Linked DNA regions of Homo sapiens: regions 1, 3 and 4 are each linked to region 2. Evidence: fine-mapped expression QTL. A gene starts in region 2. Each other region holds a variant in brackets. All regions are shown on one strand. Distances are between the middles of the regions. Region 1 overlaps CMIP (c-Maf inducing protein). Region 2 holds the start of CMIP (c-Maf inducing protein). Region 3 overlaps CMIP (c-Maf inducing protein). Region 4 overlaps CMIP (c-Maf inducing protein).

The links. PIP is the estimated chance that this variant, and not a neighbour inherited with it, causes the effect.
Region 1: its variant is the best candidate, but not a certain one, in a credible set for the expression of CMIP in whole blood (TOPMed, PIP 0.85).
Region 3: its variant is the best candidate, but not a certain one, in a credible set for the expression of CMIP in whole blood (TOPMed, PIP 0.61).
Region 4: its variant is the best candidate, but not a certain one, in a credible set for the expression of CMIP in whole blood (INTERVAL, PIP 0.75).

The regions. Positions count from the first base shown.
Region 1 is chr16:81,474,380-81,479,525 of GRCh38, forward strand. All of the region lies in intron 1 of CMIP (c-Maf inducing protein), which reads left to right. It also overlaps the pseudogene PPIAP51. Among named protein-coding and RNA genes, the nearest start is that of CMIP, 32 kb to the left of the region's middle. The variant C/A (reference allele first, on the strand shown) is at 2,920.
Region 2 is chr16:81,442,344-81,447,489 of GRCh38, forward strand. CMIP (c-Maf inducing protein) reads left to right here and starts at 2,465. Exons shown (of 21, transcript NM_198390.3): 1 at 2,465-3,198. The coding sequence starts at 2,899. RefSeq lists enhancers at 1,306-1,838, 4,003-4,768, 4,769-5,146 and silencers at 2,048-2,147, 2,258-2,607, 2,678-2,727, 3,158-3,457.
Region 3 is chr16:81,701,617-81,706,762 of GRCh38, forward strand. CMIP (c-Maf inducing protein) reads left to right here. Exons shown (of 21, transcript NM_198390.3): 16 at 44-184; 17 at 1,006-1,053; 18 at 2,323-2,469; 19 at 3,883-3,988. Among named protein-coding and RNA genes, the nearest start is that of PLCG2, 75 kb to the right of the region's middle. RefSeq lists an enhancer at 3,064-3,565. The variant GAC/G (reference allele first, on the strand shown) is at 1,998.
Region 4 is chr16:81,686,689-81,691,823 of GRCh38, forward strand. It overlaps CMIP (c-Maf inducing protein), which reads left to right. Exons shown (of 21, transcript NM_198390.3): 11 at 5,087-5,135. Among named protein-coding and RNA genes, the nearest start is that of MIR6504, 78 kb to the left of the region's middle. RefSeq lists enhancers at 1-533, 4,412-5,051. The variant T/G (reference allele first, on the strand shown) is at 2,805.

The DNA of each region.
Region 1 (5,146 bases), 32 kb after region 2:
TTTCTCCGCTCTCTCTTTCCTTCACTCCCTTCCTCCCATTCATCTGGTGCTTACCGGGGGCCACCAGGTAGGCACGTCGCACACTACTTCTGCTTCATGTGAGGGGTTCATGGTGGCTTCTCCCTACCTTCAGACCACACCTCTGGTGGGAGGTGCTGCGTGAGGATCCCAGGGGTGAACTGAGTCAGGTCAGAGGAGCAGGGAGCCCCAGCCCCTGGTGTCTTCTTACTGTGTGGTCTCTTCCGTGTCACCGCACTTCTGTGGAAGGGGAATGATGGGGGAAGTGGAGGAACCACTGTCCGCCTGCGGAGGGGCCTCAGTGTTGGCCGTGCTCATGGCGCCCTCCTCCTGGGGCTCCCTCTCCTCTGGTCCTGCCTCTCCTGCACGCCCTTCCTGCCTCCTTGGTGCCAGGGGAGCCAGCCCAGGACAGTCTCTGTGCCTAGGCCCTGCCAGCCTGGCTGCCCTGCCTCCAGCCATGGGGGGCGGGCGGGGAGGGAGTCGACCAGTGCTTGTCTTTGCAGAACTGCTGGTGGACTGAATGTGGTTCTGGGGGTGGCCAGGCCTGAGGGTAACTCATTTTGGAAGGTTTGGGATGTCACTTCACTTAAGGAGCCTTCAGCAACATGGAGTTTAAGTGGCCCTCTTCACCGTGGCCTTGTGGCTTCATGAATGGAGCTGCTGTGGTCAGCATGGCTGGCCCTCTGGAGAGGAGGGTGGGCCATGAGGAGAAGATGCTGTGTCTGGAGGCCTTAACCCTTTCCTCCCTTCTCTCCCTCCCTCCCTCCTGTCTCTTTCTCTCTCTGTCTCTTTCTCTCTAGGTGCATAAAAAAAATTGCTTTCAGATAAAGTTGACATGCAATAAACTGCATATTCTCCCTTTGCTTTTAAAATGATGATCTGTTTCAGCCATGCAAAGCAGGGTATAAAATAATATTTCAGTGTAACCACTCAGCGGAAGAAATAAACCATTCCAGTTGCAATACCTGATGTACCGTTCTCTGATTTCAAACCCTTCCTTTTCTCTGCCCCGACTTTGATGTTTATTCTTGTGCATATTTTTGTACTTGTACAACTACATACTCTTATAGAACACTCCATAATGTTTCCTAGATTTTTTTTTTGTTATTATATAGCTTTTATTTCACAATCATAAACTTAACTCAACTCTGCAATCCAGCTAGGCATGGAAGGGAACAAAACATGGAACCCAAAGGAAACTGCAGTGAGAGCACAAAGATTCTAGGATACTGTGAGCAAATGGGGCAGAGGGGTGCTCTCCTGAGCTACAGAAGGAACGGTCTGATGGTTAAGATAAAACACAAGTTGCTGGGTGTGGTGGCTCACTGCCGTAATCCCAGCACTTTGGGAGGTTGAGGCAGGTGGATCATGAGGTCAGGAGATCAGGACCATCCTGGCTAACACGGTGAAATCCTGTCTCTACTAAAAATACAAACAAAATTAGCTGGGTGTGGTGGGGGGCGCCTGTAGTCTCAGCTACTTGGGAGGCTGAGGCAGGAGAATGGCATGAACCCGGGAGGCAGAGCTTGCAGTGAGCTGAGATTGCTCCACTGCGCTCCAGCGTGGGTGACAGAGTGAGACTCCTTCTCAAAAAAAAAAAAAAAAGATAAAACATAAGTCAAACTTTATTCAAGTTGTCCACAGTTAGCAATAGTGATCTTCTTGCTGGTCTTGCCATTCCTGGACCCAAAGTGCTCCATGGCCTCCACAGTCTTCACGTCTTCTTTCACCTTGCCGGAGACCACGTGCTTGCGTTCAACCACTCAGTCTTGGCAGTGCGTGTGGAAAACTGGGAACCGTTTGTGTTGGGTCCAGCATTTGCCATGGACAAGATGCCGGGACCTGTATGCTTTAGGATGAAGTTCTCATCTTCAAATTTCTCCCCATAGATGGACTTGCCACCAGTGCCATTACGGCGTGTGAAGTCACCACCCTGATACATAAACCCTGGAATGTTCCTGTGAAAGCAGGAACCCTTATAACCAACTCCTTTCTCTCCAGTGCTCAGAGCGTGAAAGTTTTCTGCTGTCTTTGGAAACTTGTTTGCAAACAGCTCGAAGGAGATGCGGCCCAAGGGCTCGCCGTTGACAGCGATGTCAGAGAACACAGTGGGGTTGACCATGGCTGATAGAACAGGTTTCCCGACGGCGCCGGTGTCTGCAGAGTGGCCATGTTTCCTAGATTGTAAAGTTTCATATAAATAGTATCATTACTTGGGCCTTCTTGTGCAACTTGCCTTTTTAGTTTGCTTACTTTCTGTATATGAGATCCATTGTATGAAGAAGCCGTGGCATATTTATTTATGCATTCTGTTGATGGTCTTCTAGATTGCTTCTAGATTTTTGCTGCTGTAAACAATGCCACAGTGAACATCTTCATAGATAATCTCCATTTACAGGAATCCAAGAGTTTCTCCCATTTCCTGTTTCTTCTCCCTCCCACCCCTTCTTTCCTTTTGTCCTTACTTCCCGACGTCAGCCAAGTTCAGCTTCTCAGGCTCCCTAAGGATCTTTAGGAGACGGTGAAGATGAATGAAAAGACCCCAGCCCCAGCGTGGAGGTCAGGGCTCCTGGGTTTCAGCCTCAACTTGGTGGACCTCTTTGGGCTTCATCTATAGTAGGACCATTTTTATCTCGTGGGGCTAATTCATGCCGCGTTGAGCTGAGCACCTGGGCATATGGTTGATGCTTGAAAAATGGCAGCTGGTTGTGTCTATCTTCTGATTTTGAAGATACACATCGGGCTTGGAAATGTCGGCCCTGAACTCTTTTTTTTTGAAATGGAATCTTGCTGTGTTGCCCAGGCTGGAGTGCAGTGGTGTGGTCTCGGCTCACTGCAACCTCAGCCTCCTGGGTTCAAGTAATTTCCTGTCCCAGCTTCCTGAGTAGCGGGGATTACAAG[C/A]TTACACCACCACACCCACGCCTGGCTAATTTTTATATTTTTAGTAGAGACAGGGTTTCACCATGTTGGCCAGGCTCGTCTCGAACTCCTGGCCTCAGTTGATCTGCCTGCCTTGGCCTCCCAAAGTGCTGGGATTACAGGCGTGAGCCACCGCACCTAGCCTGAATTCTTAAGGGGTAGATACAGGGCAGGGTATGGACTGTGCATCCAGGTCCCCTCCTTTCCCACTGAAGGCAATGGCTGCCCTCCCTGTGTGAAGGCGGCTGGACTGTCGTCATCAGCACTCAGAACTCCTTGCTCCTGCATGTAAGACTCCGGGATCATATAATATTTAAAAATGCAGCAGCTTAAACACAGCAGAAGCTTGTTTGTTTTCTCTCGTATAAAGGAAATCTAGGGTCTAAGTCGTGTGAGGGTTGCCGTGGCTGGCCTGTGGCTTTGAGGGCCTAGGGCCCCTCCATGTGGCTGCTCCTCCGTTCTTAGCACCATGGGCCAAGAGAGGCTCAAGTTCCTGCCATTTTGCCTGCCTTCCAGTTAGTGGGAAATGGGATCTTACCATTTCGTTTGCATTCCAGTTAGCAGAAAGTGGGAGTGGCAGGGGAGTGGAAAAGGACTTCTGCCCTGTTAAGGTGACTTCTGCTTTCACCTTACTGGCCAGACCATCATGTGGCATCCCCGGCTGCAAGAGCATCTGGGAAATGTAAGTGGGAGCCATGAATCCCACCCCACAGCAGGATTTTTATTATTGAGAAGGGAGAGGAGGCCAGAATAGGGTGTTGGCATGGGCCACGCTAGCCATCTCTGCCACTGCCCTTCCCCCCCACCCCAGAAAGTATCCCAGGGCCAGTCTCCACTTCACTCTTGGGAAGGCGAAGGCTGGTCAGGGAGACACATTGCGTGGGCATTCCCTCAAGCTTCCGGAACAGGCCATCCTTTGAAAGCCACTCACATGTAGCACAGTGGAAGGAAGCAAGGCTTTTACAGGGGCAGAGGGAGTGGTAAGGTATCAGCAAGCCGTAGAGTAGAACAGGGAGCCGACAGTTCTGCATGGCGCCAGCAGCTCCTGGGAAGGGGTTGTAGGGCCGAGATTTTGGCGTCCTGTATGGAGAGGAGCAGCCTGCCGGAGAAGATAGTGAGCTCCCTGAGAAAGCAGGTGTGCAAGCAAAGGTCAGATGGACATGTGTCAGTCAGGGAGGCCACCGAGTGCGTTCTAGATCCAGAAAGCACATTCATGGAATTCCATTGAGGAATTATGGAAGGGATCTCATGCAGGGATGGTGAATGCACAGACCATGTGTGGTCCCCTCCACCCTCCAGCCCTTGTTGGTCCTCCTGGTGCCCTGCAGAGCCGCAGCCACCCCAGAGCCTCCCGGTGGGAAGAAGTTGGCACCTGAGATAAACCCATTTGCTTTTCCCACTTGAATTCAGTTCTCTTGTTCCTATAGGTGTGGACGTTGAGGGCCAGCCTGGAAGCGCCATATCCAGAGGCACTCAGGGAGGGGAGCAGGAGACCCAGGGCTCTGGGATTCAGGTCCCTCTGTCACACCCTGCCCTTCTTCTGGGTCTTTCTTCCCCACCTCCCAGCCAGAAATTGCCTCCTGGAGCCAGCCCAGCCTCGTCTTGTTCATTGGAGCTCAGTTGGAGACCCGTCCTCACCCGAAGCAGGGTGAGAGGACAGCACCTGCCACCTTTAAGTCTGGGCTTTGCTGGACGCCTAGGAGAAGCCGGGTCCTCAGGCACTCGAGTGGGAAGTGAAAGTGTGCACCAGCTCTTTAGTTCTGCTATTGACCGGACAGGGTTTTTCCTGGGGGGAGGGGGAAGGAGCTGCTGTGTTTTCTTTGCTTAATCTGGCCTTGCCCCACAGAGAAAACACATGCGTAGCCTCCATCCTGTTTGTAAAGAGGGCGGTCAGCTACTCGAAGTTGCTCGCCTGGAAAAACTGGGAAGATGTCATCTCCTATGGTAAGGAGGTGGGGGCTACAGGTAGCTGAGGTGGGCAATGAATGTCTTGAGGGACTGTCAGCATGTGACCTTTTTTTAAATGGTGATAAAATACACGTAACATAAAATGGGCCATTTTAACCAGTTTTAAGTGTGCAGTTCATTGAGTACGTTCACATTGTTGCACAACCATCACCCCCATCCATCTCCAGAACTTTCTCATCTTCTCAAACTGAAACTGTCCCCATTAAATGTTAACTCCTAGTCCCCCTCCCCCAGCCCCTGG
Region 2 (5,146 bases):
TACCGGTCATTATTATCACGGTATGTCCTACTTAATGTTTACAAATCAACCACTGTACTGGGCTGCATGGAGGATGTCTGGAATGGTCCTGGAATATATCAGGGATTTGCATCCTGCTAAATCTCCTCCTTCTACTGGAGTTTTGTGCCCTGTATGGGTAGGGGCGTGTCCACAGATGTCCCCGAAGTGGACAGCAGCTGCTTTGCTTGCCACTGGGCCACTCCACCCAGTGACTTTGTGCTAGCCCTTGTTGCTTCCTTCTGTGGGGGGTAGGTGAGCATGAAAGTCTCCTCACTGGCCTCCTTGCCTCTAGGTTTCTCCTCTGCAATGCTCATCTGTGCCACACTGCAGCCTTTTGAAGAAGCCATGTACAAGTCACTCCTTTGCATGGCCCATGTGGTGTCTCCCCACTGCTCTAGTCCCTGGGTTTGCATTTCAGGGTGCTGCTTGCTCACCGCCTACATCTCTGCTCCACCTCCTCCAGGGACCTTGCACCCCATGGCAAGTGAGTTCAGTTTCCTGAACAAGCTGAGCATCCTCCCATCTCTTTGCCTTGGTAGGAGCCAGTTCGTCTTCTTGGAGCACCTATCCCCTTCTTTACTTGATTCCTAAAGAACTCTTAGAGTACCCTGGTCCCCCACACTGGGTTAGACATCCCCCTTTCTGTTCCTGGAGCACCAAGCACAATGTCTGTTACTGTTCTGGACTCTGACCTCCATGCTTTGTGGTTGAGGATGAGGACAGCACCTATGTCATAGGGTGTGAGAAGAGAATGATGTGTGCGTACAAAATTCTTAGCACATAGGAAGCCTCTGGCCACTGTGGTTATTATAGTCATTACCATTAATACCCTAGTGCCTGGCCTGTGACCAGCATACAGCAGGAGCTCAATGAAAATATTTGAACAAAGGATCTAATCCCACCCGCTTAATGGACTGGGGGGTTTCTTGGCCCCAACCACCCCCCAACACCCACATATCTAGGGCTTGCCCCTTCATGCTTGGTGGTTTTCTCAAGGCTGTTCAAGCTCAAAACTGGAAGGAAATGGCAGCAAATTGTGGGGAGCTAAGGAATTTCTAACTTTCTAATCTAATTGTGCCTCCCCAAGGAGGCATCTCCTGGGCAGGCTGGATGTGAGTCTTCTTTCCTTGGTGAGGGATGCAGCCTGGGACCTGCCTTTCATCCCCTGCCTGAAACCCTGGCCAGGCTCGGGGAGAGGGTCCTCTGGGGAGCACCTTCATGCTGCCTGTTCTTGGGAGAGGGGGGGTGAATAATTTCCACCAACGGCACAGATGCTGTGGATATTCCGCAGTGTTCACGACGCAGTTCAACACACGCTGCACACATTCATGTGTTCACTACAGAGGCGCCTTCACTTAAAAAGGCAAAAATCTAGGGTTTTAACGTTATTAGCTGCAGGAGCACGTGGAGATAAGAAAACCTGGCTGAGGAGCTGAGCATTTGCTAGGTGGCCTTAGGTGCCGGCTGCTTGTGATGGCAGAAAGGGAGCTTTTTGCATCCAGGCTGCAGTTCCTGATACCCTGGGTCACAAGAGAATCGAATATGGTTCTCTCGTGGGCTGGTGCTGGGCCTGTGAACTCAGATAAAATGACCAGGTGGGGTCCCAGGGAAGGTGAAGTAGGGGGAGCTGCTGGGGTGCGCACAAGAGGGGTGGCTGTGTAGGTTGGGGGGTGCTTTAAGTGGGTTCCTAGAAGAGGCTCTGTCTCCCTGGGCAGAAGAAAGAAGGGGGATGGGCGGACCGTCCCCTCTCTCCAGAAGGTTTGAGGACCCCCAAGGCCAAAGCCAGCAGACGTCAAAGGCCAGGAGTTCGAGGCCGGCTGGGTCCCGCAGTGGGAGACAGGGCAGGGTGGGCTCATCCTCCGGATCACCGCGGGGACACTTTCAGTCGGGAAGGCGTCCCCGTCCCACGGCCCCATCTGGCCAGCCCGCTGGACAGCCTGGACAGCGGAGGGGGCGTCAGGGGTCGAGGGTTCCAGTCCCCGTCCTTCCACCCAGCCCCCGGCCCTCGGGTATCCTTCTTTACCCGTCCGAGTCCGGCCCGGGGGCGGCGGGGGTGGGTGAGGCGCGGGCCCCCAGGCTCCGGCAGCCTGGCTGGGCTCCCGCCCGGGCACCCGCGGGGGCGCGGCTGGCGTGACGTCACGCGCCCCGCCCCCGCGCCCCGCCCCCTCCCCACATTCCAGGCGGGGCGGGCCGGGACCCCGCGGGGCTCGCCCGCCCCAGCCCCCTCCCCAGGGGCTGCCCCTCCCGTCGGGCCGCGCCTCCCCGTCGTGGGCCGCGACCCCGCCCGGACCGCGGACTCCGCCCGCGAGAGGCCGAAGCCGCCGCGGCCGCCGCCGTTGCCGCCATTGACGTCAGAGGGGCGGGCACATGACCCTGCGGGGACCAATCGCGCGGGCGCCCCGGGCTCCGGGAGCCCGGCGCGCGGCCCGCCCCGCCCGCGGCCACTCTCGCCCGGACGGCCGCGCGGACACACGCTCTGTACACACGCGCGCGGCGGCGCGGGGCCCCGAGACACGCCCGCCCCCACCCCGCCGCCCCCACCCCGGCGCCCGCCCTCCGCGCCTGGCCCCGGCCCGCCCTCGGCCTCCCCCGCCCCTCCCCGTCGCCCGCCGAGCCCGGTCAGCCGCCGCGAGCATGCACCCGACGAGCTAGGAGGAAGCCCGGAGCCCCGCAGGAAGCGCCGAGGCCGGCCCAGCCCGCCGCACGCGCCGCCCCCCGCGGGCAGCGCCCCCTCCCCTGCGGGCGCCCCCAGCCCCACACCCCCCCACCTTCCCGGGGGGTGGGGGGGTGCGGGCCGCCGGATCCGGGGGCCCCGCCGCCCCAGCAGCCCAGGACAGCCCCCTCTCCCCGCCCCCAGCCCCCTCCCCCGGCGCGGCCATGGATGTGACCAGCAGCTCGGGCGGCGGCGGCGACCCCCGGCAGATCGAGGAGACCAAGCCGCTGCTGGGGGGCGACGTGTCGGCCCCCGAAGGCACGAAGATGGGCGCCGTGCCCTGCCGCCGGGCTCTTCTGCTTTGCAACGGGATGAGGTACAAACTGCTGCAGGAGGGCGACATTCAGGTCTGTGTCATCCGGCACCCGCGGACCTTTCTCAGCAAGATCCTCACCTCGAAATTCCTGAGGCGCTGGGAGCCGCACCACCTAACGCTGGCCGACAACAGCCTGGCGTCCGCCACGGTGAGTGGCTCTGCGCGGCTGCACCCCCGCCTCTCCTCGGGGCCCGAGATGCGCCCTCCCTGGCTGCCCCCTGGCGCTGCACCTGGAGCCCAGGGCCTGGGGGGCGGTGGGGGGTGCCGGGGGAACGGGGAGAACCAGGGCGCCTCGCTCCTGGCCTGCTCGCGGGGCTCGATTTTGGAGTCTGAAGCCCAAACCAGCCGACCGGGCTCAGGAGAGACCCTTAAAATGCTGGAGACTCGGCCCACCGCCAGGCTGGGTGCCTGGGGACCTTCTGCCCCCAGCTCTTGTGTTTCTGGTGGCTGGGACTCGAGGATGGACCCGACGCTGGGCCCTGATGGTGGTGGGGGTTCTCTCTGGAAGCCCCTGGCCCATCTGGATCTGAGGGGTGGGGGAGGGGAAAACAAAATACCACCCCTCAGATTTAAAAAAAAAAACAAACAACACAACAAAACCTCCAAACCCCCAAACCCAAAGAATTTCCAGAAGCCAGTTTCTCTGTTTGGTTTACCCGTCCTTTATTCTCTTTCCTGCCAGGGCTGGCAGGCAGAACGGGGTGCTTCCCTTTCTGAAAATCTCATTCGCACATTGAGAGGTTGGAAGTGGAGGGGGAGGGGGCAGTGGTCCTGGAATATCTCAGGACCCAGCGGTGGTCGAGTTCTAGCCTAGAAGCTGCTTGGTGGAGCCCTGGTCCGGCATTGTCTGTAGAGTGTGTGTATACGTGTGTGTTTTGTTGCTGGAGGTTTAATTTTGTTATTGTTTTTAAATACATGGGTAGGACTGGGTCAGCTGGATGAGTCGGAGAGGAAAAACCATTGATCTGTTTCTGAAATCAGATCTGCAAATGGTGGCCTTCTTCGTACGTGGAGAAAGACAGCTGTGGTGGGGTCGAGGGGAGAGTGGGGGTGGCGGGTAGGAGCCTGAACAGGATGCTTTGTGTTTTGAAACAAGGACAGTTTCAAATACCGGCTGTGGCTTGGGCCTGAGGCTTGCCGTGGGGGTCCCATCCTCATTGGGGGTGTAGCTTGTCTTCCCCAGAATGCACACTCCTCCCTGGGGCCACCGTGATCCTGTTTACTAAGCGCAGTGGGAGGGGGCCGAATCCACTGCCTGCCCACACCTGTGCCAAGAAAACCCAGCCAGGAAATAGGGTGTCGCTTACATGGCATGTCACAAACGTGTAGCGTGTGTAGACATTTCCCTGGCATCCATGTTCCCTTGGCGGTGTGTCACAGGCCATGACACATGCCCCAAGGAATGGGGAGGGGGGAAAAGTTAGCTGAAGAATCCTACTCTTTGAACCAGTCCCCCACCCCCCACCCCAGAGCGTTGCAGCCCTCGAGGACTTTTATTCTTAATTTGGGGTCCGACATGCTTAGAGCACCTATTTTCTCTTTCCTGTGGGCACGTTGGTGCAATATCTGCAAAGACTCCTTTTTCAGGGAGGATTGCTGGTCGCGGGGAGGCGGCCCAGTCCCCGGTCAGGCTGGTGCATGTTCTCAAGCCCGTCCCGCGCCACAGGCCGCAGCATTTGGCTTTCCAATGGATGGAGGCGGGAGAGAGCCTCCGAAAATTTGCCAGTACGGAGTGTTTCTGATGTGGGGAGGAACTGGTGACCGCGGTGCCCCCTGCCTGGATTCTGGAGACCCCAGATCTGGCTTCAGAATTTTCACCTGGCTCAGGGGGACTTTATTGGGCTTTTTTTTTTTTTTTCCTCTTACACTCCACAAAATGAAGGGTTGTTGGTGGTGGGGTAGGAAAATGGTTAGAAGGAACAGTGACCTGCCATGGGAAGGCCAGGAGGAGCCCCTTCTCCCTCTGGGAGAAGCCAGGAGTGAGTGTCCCGCTGCTACCGTCCTGTTTCCGGAAAGCCAGCTCTCGAGGCTAATGCCTCCCCACTTACCTCCGATTGCTCAGGAGGTATATCTGAGAGAAAGAGGGAAGGAAGAAA
Region 3 (5,146 bases), 260 kb after region 2:
GTGGCAGGCCGGGTCCGTAATGCACCCCTGCGGTTCTGGACAGATCCTGTGCTTGATGCTGGAATACAACATCATCGACAACAACGACACCCAACTGCAGATCATCTCAACCCTGGAGAGCACAGACGTGGGGAAGCGCATGTACGAGCAGCTGTGTGACCGGCAGCGGGAGCTGAAGGAGCTGGTGAGTCCCCGGCTGCTCCGGACCACTCCCCTGCCCAGCAGGCCAGGGGGGGCCAGGGCGGGATGCGGGGCAGCTAGTACTTGGACCTGAGTGGACCTCAATCTCGTTGAATTCTCCTCCAAACCCCAGAAATTGGTATTACCACCTGCCACTTTTCAGGTAATCAAAGAGAAGCAAAGCAATCCCCAGAGTCACACAGCTCATTGGGGCCTGGCCAGGACATTGCCCACCCTCCCTCCTCCATGTCCCTTAGACCCTTCCATTTCAGTACATGGGGGACCCAACTTCCAAATGCCAGCACCCACACCTCTTTGCTGAAGGACTTTGTATGTCCACATGCATATACTCACACATGTGTACACAGAAGGACGGAAGGGGCAGGAAATTCATGCCTTCTGATCTCCTGGAGCAGCCCTCAACCAGTCCCTTCTGGGGAGAGTGTGTAGAAATACCCCAGCTCCCTCACCCCTTCAGTGAGATATGTTTGAGACATGGCTTCTCCACCATTTCTTAGAGTCCCCCGGTGGGATTTGGTGCCAGTACCCACCCAGTGATAGCTGGATTGATAACACCCCTTCCATTATAGGTAGCCACAGTGTCACTTCCCCACTCTCCCACTGGTGTTTCTTGGGATCACCCTCCAGTAAACCACCTGTGCTCAAACCTCATCTCCGGGTTTGCCCCTGAGACCAAGACCACCGTGTTGCCTTGTACCACCAAGAAAATAACGATGGCTCCATGAGTGTTGTTAACAGAGGTGGAAGTCTAGAATGGAAACTTGGGGAAAAGAATGGTTGTAACCAGCCTGGTTTCTGTTGCAGCAAAGGAAAGGCGGGCCCACCAGGCTAACACTGCCCTCCAAGTCCACAGTGAGTTGGTTTGGTTCTCTTTGGGGCTGGATGGAGAAGGTGGGTTGGTCCTCTCTGTTGGGGAACGGCAGGTGGTGTCTGCTGCTGAGATGGGAGGTGATGGAGGGCGGGGCACAAGGACCCCCTAGTACTTAACACGCCAGCTCTTCCAGGAGGTAGCTGGGTTACAGGAAGAGAAATGAAAACCAAAAAGGAAGTTAAAATATGATACAGATTGTTGGTGATAATAGTGTTGATATCTAGTTATTAATAGTACTTGGAATAATAGCAGATATACCTTGAGCATTTGTGTGTCAGATGCTCTTCTATTAGTTTGTTTTATCCTCACAGCAACCCTTGGAAGCTTGTGTATCTTACCATTCGCATTTCACAAGGTCTTTAAGGGTCTTATTTCCTTCTATTCTGATGCCCCCATTATATTTGACACATGGCTTCTACTTCCTGGACCAAAAGGGCTGCTCAGGCTCCAGACCTCTTGTCTCCATTCCAGCCAGCAGGAAGGAGAACGTGCCCCTTCCTCTTAAGAAACTTCCTGGAAGTTCTACTTGACATGTCTACTTACATCCCATTTTCCAGATTTAGTGTGTGGGGCCACACACTAAATCAGCCTTCATTCCGGGCAGCCACAGGGCCGCTGACACTCAAGGATGGAGGGGAGTGTGGAGGTTGTCTTAGGAACCTCCCAGTCCGGTGCTCAGGCATGCGCTGGTGTCTTCAGGCATTAGAGTTGAGTGTGGCCTCAGTGTTGGCATGAGCTGCTGCCCAGGAGTGAGGCAGCCAGTCACACACCCTGATGCACAGACACAGACACACAGAGACACACCAACACACACACACACAAATATACACAGACGTGCACAGACACACACATGTACAGACACATGCATACACAAACGTGCACACAGACACACACAGATATACACACATACAGGCACACACACACA[GAC/G]ACACACACACACAGACGCCTGTGGGAGGATCGTGGCCTTGGAACACCCCGCTGGTGCCTCAGGGTGTGAGTCACAGCACTGGAGGCTTTCTCCTCCGCCTGGCAGCTGTCGTCCATGGGATGCGTGGCAGCCCCTCCCTCTCTGGCCACCCCCTTGGCCCATCCCACCGAGCTGTGCCCCCATCTCAGCTCCTGGGATTTACCGCCCCCCAGGAACAGCTCTCTGTAGGGCGAGGGGAGAGGAGGAGGATAGGGGATAGGAGGGCTCAGGGTCTCGGGAACTCCCAGCAGCACCCTCAGGCCTCTCCCCCGTCTGCCCGCAGGACGCTGACTTGGCTCGTTTGCTGAGCTCCGGCTCCTTCGGAAACCTGGAGAACCTCAGTTTGGCCTTCACCAATGTAACCAGTGCCTGCGCCGAGCACCTCATCAAACTGCCTTCGCTCAAGCAGCTGAACCTGTGGTCCACTCAGGTACGTCCTCCCGCCCTGCTGCAGTCCCCCACACCCTCCTCCTTCACCTCTGCACTCTCCTCCCTATTCCCCCGTACCATCTTCCTTTCCCCTCAGCCTCCTCCCTGCCCCCTCCCCCTCCTTCCTGCCCCCTCCCCCTCCTCCCTGCCCCCCTTACTCTCCTCCCTGCCCCTTCACCCTCCTCCCTGCTCCCCTCACCCTCCTCCCTGCCCCCTCACCCTCCTCCCTGTCCCCCTTACTCTCCTCCCTGCCCCCTCACCCTCCTCCCTGCCCCCCTTACTCTCCTCCCTGCCCCTTCACCCTCCTCCCTGCTCCCCTCACCCTCTTCCCTGCCCCCTCCCCCTCCTCCCTGCCCCCTCCCCCTCCCCTACCCACTTACCCTCCTCCCTGCCCCCTCACCCTCCTCCCTGCCCCCTCACCCTCCTCTCTTTCCCCTCACCCTCCTCCCTGCCCACTCACCCTCCTCCCTGCCCCCTCACCCCCCCACCCACTCACCCTCCTCCCTGCCCCCTCACCCTCCTCCCTGTCCCCCTTACTCTCCTCCCTGTCCCCTCACCCTCCTCCCTAACTCGTTCACCCTCCTCCCTACCCCTTCATCCTCCTCCCTGCCCCCGTCACCCTCCTCCCTGCCCCCTCACCCTCCTCCCTGCCCCTCACCCGCTTCCCTGCCTACACCCCAGGCATTGCTTACCACACGACCCTTCCCTCAAGCTCAGCACCCACTCCCTGAGGCTAGAGGAGGTTGAGGACCTCATGAAGCCCTGCAGCCCATTTCCCATTTGGAAATAATGTGCCCAGTTCCGAGTCCTGAGGTTCTGAGAGGTAGAGCTGAGACGTGAGCCAGGCTTCGCTGGCCTGCGGGGGGCTGCGCAGGAGGCTTCTGGGTCTTTTTGTTATAGTAACACCAGTGGCTGCTGAGTCCCAGCTCAGTGTGAACTGCACTGCTCAGTACTCTGCACAGGGCAGATGAAGGGGCCTTCACTGCACACCTGTGAAGTGCAGGTTCTACCCTCACCCTAATTTTCCAGAGGAGAAACTGGGGACAGTCCCTGCAGCCTGCCCCCGGCCCAGCCCTGTCCTTCCACTGTCCACCCAGCAGGAGAAAGCCACCTAGGCAGCATCTCGAAGCTAGGGAGAGACAAGTTCAAAGCCCTCCTTCATGGAGGCAAAACTGACTCCAAGGGGGCCCTGGCCTGGCTCCACTCCCAACAGCAGAAGCTGGATTCTAACCCGGTTCAGAGAGGCGTGGGATTGTTTAGGGGACGTGAACGCAGCCCAGACCCCAGGGCTTGGTGGGCCATGGGCCTCAGAGCCAGGCTCTGTCCCCATCCCTTTCCTCCACCTCTGCCCCAGCCTCAGAGTCACTTCCCCAGGAGTGGCCGGGAGAGGGCTGAGAGTTTCTGTGCTCTACAGTTTGGAGACGCTGGCCTTCGGCTCCTGTCGGAACACCTCACCATGCTCCAGGTGCTGAACCTGTGCGAGACCCCGGTCACAGACGCTGGCCTGCTGGCCCTGAGCTGTGAGTGCCTCCGGGGCAGCTGGGGGGTGAGGGGCCGCTTGATTCATTCCTTCCTTGCTTCAGCCAAACTGGCCAAGCACTGACTTTGCACCATGCACAGATAGAGAAATTCGTTCATTCACAAACGTGTTCACTGCACACCTGCTGTGGACCAGGCACCATTCCATGTGCCAGGAACAACACAGGGAAAAATATCCCTAACCTCAGAGAGCTTATATTCTAGAGGCAATAGAAAAAATGAGTAAGGCCAGCCCATAGCCTCTTGACACTCACAGTCCACTGAGGGGTCGAGTTCAAGGACGGGGCTGTAGTACATTGCCACTGTGGTCCCCTGACCAGTGGTGGCAGCGTCTTCTGGGGGCTGGTCAGAAATGTACATTCCCAAGCCCACTCCAGACCTCCTGACTCAGACACCGTACGGTAAGCAGATGCCTGGGAGGCTCCCGTGCCCGTTGACATTTGAGAAGCCCTGTCATAATAGAAGGAGGCACAGAATTCTCAAGGAACCTAGAAAGGCCAGTTCCTGTGTGCCAAACCCCAGGTGACTGAACTAGCCTCAGGGATATTGAGCCCGGGATTCTGTATTTGACCAGCTTTCCCTTTTCCAGGCCCACTGCTTTAGACGGGAAGACCCGTGGCTCAGTGGGAAGAGTCAGAAAAGGCTTCCCGGGGAGGTGCTGTTGAGTCTGGGTGTGAAGACAGATTTGTGGGAGTTGGCCAAGGGGGAGGCACCCTGAGCAGGGGCCATGACTCCTACCGGGCCGCTGGCAAATGCTGGGTGGCTTGGGAGGAGGTGGGAGCAGGTGACTGGGTCAGTGGAGGCAGAGCGGCAGCGCTCGGCCAGTTTGGCTGCAAATGCAGATGCGCTGCTTCCACTGGAGTCCCCCGGGGGGGCGCGGTCCTCATCAACAGCACAGATTCCTGGTCCCTGCTGCGGCCCTGCTCAGCGTCTCTGGGAGTGGGTGGAGGGGTCTGCCCCCCGTGCGACTCCAACACAAACCAGAGGTTGAGGCTTGCTTTCAAGAAGCAGCACCGAGTCAATGACGACGGGGGGACCATCCGGGGTTCCCTTAGTGGGGAGGCCTCGGGCCTGATCTGGGGTGTGGCAGGCAAGCTCTGGGGACATCAGGTCCAGGCAGTGGGGGCACACGACAGAGG
Region 4 (5,135 bases), 240 kb after region 2:
GGCTTATTTGGAGGAAGGTGGGGCAGGAAAAGCCCTCACTCAGGGGTTATCTAAACCGCCTGTTGTCGATGGGAGTGAACATTTGTACTTGGTGAAAAAAACATCTCCTCCCGTTTCTATGTAAGGCACAGTTAGACACACAGCACGCAAACCGATACACAGTGTATCTGTGGTGAGTCGTATGTGGGTAGGGGTCCCGGGACCACCCCTCTGCCCAGCCCGGGTCTGAGCACCCCCTGGCCTCTCCCGTGGGTGGTGCCCAGGTGTCAGCGGGGCATCTCTCTGCAGCGCCTCCCCAACACAGACCACTGGACAAGGGTTCAGATCCCACCTCCTGCCCCAGTGCAAGCCAGGATCGAAGTCAGCATCCCACTCGATCTTGGCACCTGGTGGCACTTGCTAGTCCCCCAGATGGAGACTCAACATCCCTTCTGCTCTGAAGCCGGTCACAGGCCCCAGGCTCTGTCATTGGCCCGGTCCCAGTGTGCACTGGGCCTTGTGTTCAGCAGTCCCCTCCCAAGCACCAGCCATCCACCCAGCCCGGGGCCCAGCATGGGGGATGCAGAGATGAGACCTGGGCCCCTCCTGGGGTGGTCCGAGGCAAGATGGTCAGAAGCTGGGGAACACCAGGGACAGCTCTGTGATTCGGATGGGGACTGCTCCAGTGGCCACCCCTCACTTTATGTGTCACGGTTTTAAGCTCTGGGCCCTCAGAGGTGCCCAGGCCTGGCTTAGGCGAGAACTGACTACCTCTGGGTTTGTTTTTCCGCGGAGTCCCTATAGCCAGAGAGATCCGGAACCCAGGTGGGGGAACTGGTTATAAACACAGTGCAGGTGCTGGGGCCGAGAGGACGGGTCATGGTCTTTGAAGCACCTGAGGTCAGATCTCAGCCACTTGCTGGTGACTTGTGGGAAATCACAAACAGCTCTGAGCCTCATTTTCCTCGTCTGTAAAATGGGGGTTGTCATGACTGCAGTCTCTGGGGGCCGTGTGTGAGTGCTCTGCTGTGTGATACAAGCCCATCTGTACTCAGACTGAGACGCCGGCGAGTTCTCTGGACGCTCCCAGCTTTTGGGGGCAAGAGTTGGCCAAAAAACTCCCTCTTTATGAAGCTGTGCTGGTAGGTGGTCGGGAAGCAGCCTGTTGGGCCTCAGGAAACTCCCGAAGCTATTGCTTCCCTGCTGTGGCCTGGCTGTATCACAGCCCTGTGGTCACGGTCAGTGAATTGCCATACTGCTCCTTGTCCGTAATTTGGACTCAGCACACAGGGTCCTCTGGGTAGATCCCATGAGCGAACACAAGCAGTGCCCTTACTTCAAGCCCCGGTGCGCAGGCAGCGCAGAGCGAATTGCATCTGCGTTATCAGCAGTGCTAATACTGTTCGGTTGTGGGACAGTGGTCTTCCCAGGGTCGGATGGGGGTGACACCCTGGTGCCTGGCTTCACCACACACCATGGTGTGATAGAGCCTGAAATACCTGGTTCTGAGTCCAGCTTTACCCCTTCCTAGGCTGTGTAGATGACTCGGAGTGGGTAACTGACCTCTCCCGCTGTCTCTGCACACAGGAAGGAGGCTCTTTCATGAAAGGGTTAAGTGAAGTCAGGTGAACAGCACGGTGCTTCCCGCAGCTGCTCTCACTGAGGTTTAGCCCTCCTTCCTTACCCAGGCAGGCGTTGGCTTTTGCTAAGATCACAGCCGTGGCCTTTCAGGGCTGGTGAGAGCCAAGGCTCTGCTGTCACAGAAGCCTGGATTTGACTCCTCATATGCCACAGCTGTGTGACCTTAAACCTCTGAGCCTCCAGTTCGTCATCTGTTAAGTGGGGTTAGTCACACTGACTTTATTGTGCTCTTGTAAAGAGTAAATGAACTAAGGTATAGCCCTTAGCATCCTGCAGTGTGTGTGGAAAGTCTCCGTGACATCGGAGCTGCTGTTGTTATTGTCATTGTTATTACCGTCATTAGCATCAACTCTGTTTTTTTTTAATATACTTTAAGTTCTAGGGTACATGTGCACAATGTGCAGGTTTGTTACATATGTATACATGTACCATGTTGATGTGCTGCACCCATTAACTCATCATTTACATTAGATATATCTCCTAATGCTATCCCTCCCTCCTCCCCCAACCCCACAACAGGCCCCGGTGTGTGATGTTCCCCACCCCGTGGCCAAGTGTTCTCATTTTTCAGTTCCCACCTATGAGTGAGAACATGCGGTGTTCGTTTTCTGTCCTTGCGATAGTTTGCTCAGAATGATGGTTTCCAGCTTCATCCATGTCCCTACAGAGGACATGAACTCATCCTTTTTTATGGCTGCATAGTATTCCATGGTGTATATGTGCCACATCTTCTTAATCCAGTCTGTCATTGATGGACATTTTGGTTGGTTCCAAGTCTTTGCTATTGTGAATAGTGCTGCAATCAATATACATGTGCATGTGTCTTTATAGCAGCGTGATTTATAATCCTTTGGGTATATACCCAGTAATGGGATGGCTGGGTCAAATGGTATTTCTAGTTCTAGATCCTCAAGGCATCTCCACACTGTCTTCCACAATGGTTGAACTAGTTTACAGTCCCACCAACAGTGTAAAAGTGTTCCTATTTCTCCACATCCTCTCCAGCACCTGTTGTTTCCTGACTTTTTAATGATCGCCATTCTAACTGGTGTGAGATGGTATCTCATTGTGGTTTTCATTTGCATTTCTCTGATGGCCAGTGATGATGAGCATTTTTTCATGTGTCTGTTGGCTGCATAAATGTCTTCTTTTGAGAAGTGTCTGTTCATATCCTTCGCCCACTT[T/G]TTGATGGGGTTGATTTTTTCTTGTAAATTTGTTTAAGTTCTTTGTAGATTCTGGATATTAGCCCTTTGTCAGATGGGTAGATTGTAAAAATTTTCTCCCATTCTGTAGGTTTCCTTTTCACTCTGATGGTGGTTTCTTTTGCTGTGCAGAAGCTCTTTAGTTTAATTAGATCCCATTTGTCAATTTTGGCTTTTGTTGCCATTGCTTTTGGTATTTTAGTCATGAAGTCCTTGCCCATGTTTATGTCCTGAAAGGTATTGCCTAGGTTTTCTTCTAGGGCTATTATGGTTTTAGGTCTAACATTTAAGTCTTTAATCCATCTTGAATTAATTTTTGCATAAGGTGTAAGGAAGGGATCCAGTTTCAGCTTTCTACATATGGCTAGCCAGTTTTCCCAGCACCATTTATCAAATAGGGAATCCTTTCCCCATTTCTTGTTTTTATCAGGTTTGTCAAAGATCAGGTGGTTGTAGATGTGTGGTATTATTTCTGAGGGCCCTGTTCTGTTCCATTGGTCTGTATCTCTGTTTTGGTACCAGTACCATGCTGTTTTGGTTACTGTAGCCTTGTAGTAGAGTTTGAAGTCAGGTAGCGTGATGCCTCTAGCTTTGTTCTTTTGGCTTAGGATTGTCTTGGCAATGTGGGCTCTTTTTTGGTTCCATATGAACTTTAAAGTAGTTTTTTCCAATTCTGTGAAGAAAGTCATTGGTAGGTTGATGGGGATGGCATTGAATCTATAAATTACCTTGGGCAGTATGGCCATTTTCACGATATTGATTCTTCCTATCCATGAGCATGGAATGTTCTTCCATTTCTTTGTGTCCTCTTTTATTTCATTGAGCAGTGGTTTGTAGTTCTCCTTGAAGAGGTCCTTCACTTCCCTTGTAAGTTGGATTCCTGGGTATTTAGCATCAACTCTTAGAAAAGAAGAAAAGCTGTTGTCTGAAAGCAAAAATAGAAGTATCCACCAAGGCCAGGCATGGTGCCTCACACCTGTAATCCTAGCACTTTGAGTTATTTATTTTTTTGAGTCTGAGTCTCGCTCTGTTGTCCAGGCTAGAGTGCAGTGGGGTGATCTCAGCTCACTGCGGCCTCCGCCTCCCAGGTTCTAGCAATTATCCTGCCTCAGCCTCCTGAGCAGCTGGGATTACAGGCGTGAGCCACCACACCTGGCCTATCCCAGCACTTTGGGAGGCTGAGGCAGGCAGATCACCTGAGGCCAGGAGTTCAAGACCAGCATGGCCAACATGGCAAAACCCCATCCCTACTAGAAATACAAAAAATTAGCTGGGCATAGTGGCGCACGCCTATAATCCCAGCTGCTCGGAAGGCTGAGGCACGAGAATCACTTGAACCCAGGAGGTGGAGGTTGCAGTGAGCTGAGATCGTGCCATTGCACTCCAGCCTGGGCAACAGAGTAGGACTGTGTCTCAAATAATAATAATAAATTTTAGAAAAAGAAAAAAAAGGGATCCAACAAATCAGGAGGTTTGACCCAAACTACAAACAAACAGCTTAGAATGTTTGTTGTTTATGATTCTGTCTATAGAATTTTCCCTCAGTTCTGATCACAGAAAGGTGAGAATGGCCCCAGGGTCCCAGCCTAAGCCCCCTACATTAGTTTGCTAGGACTGCTATAAAGTACCATCAACCTCATAGCTTACTCAACAAACATGTATTTCTCTCAGTTCGGGAAGGCACAACCCTGAAATCAAGGTGTGGGCAGGGCTGGTTTCTCTGGAGGCCTCTCTCCTGGCTTGCAGATGGCTGCCTTCTCGCTGAGTCCTGGCTGGTCTTTGCTCTGCGTGTCCGTGTTTCCTCTTCTTCTAAGGACATCCGTCTACAGCCTCATTGTAACCTAATCACCTCTTTAAAGGTTGTGTCTCCCAGTACAGTCACATTCTGAAGTACTGGGGTGCAGAGCTTCAGTATATGAATGGGGGGCAAAGTTCAGCCTAAAACACCCCCTAATGGTCCCAAAGAGGGCATGAACAATGATCACGTAGCCTTGGTTCAAAGGGCATTGTGAAGTCTGGGGAATAGACAGCTCACCCCCTCGGGTGCCATGAGGAAGTCTCTGCACAGGCCCAGTTGTGAGTCCTTGAGGCCACGCTGAGAACATTGACTTGCTCATCCTGGAGGTGGAAGTGGGTGGAGAAGTCAGTGCCACTGACTACCTGCCAGGCTCTCACCCCATCTTTTGGCCCATCTGGGACCAAAAACAGTGCCATAAACCTTCCTTGTCCCAACCAAAGCTGACTGTCACCCTCTCTCATTCTAGGTCAGACTATGATGACTGGAGACCGTCTCTGGCCAGTTTGCTTCAACCC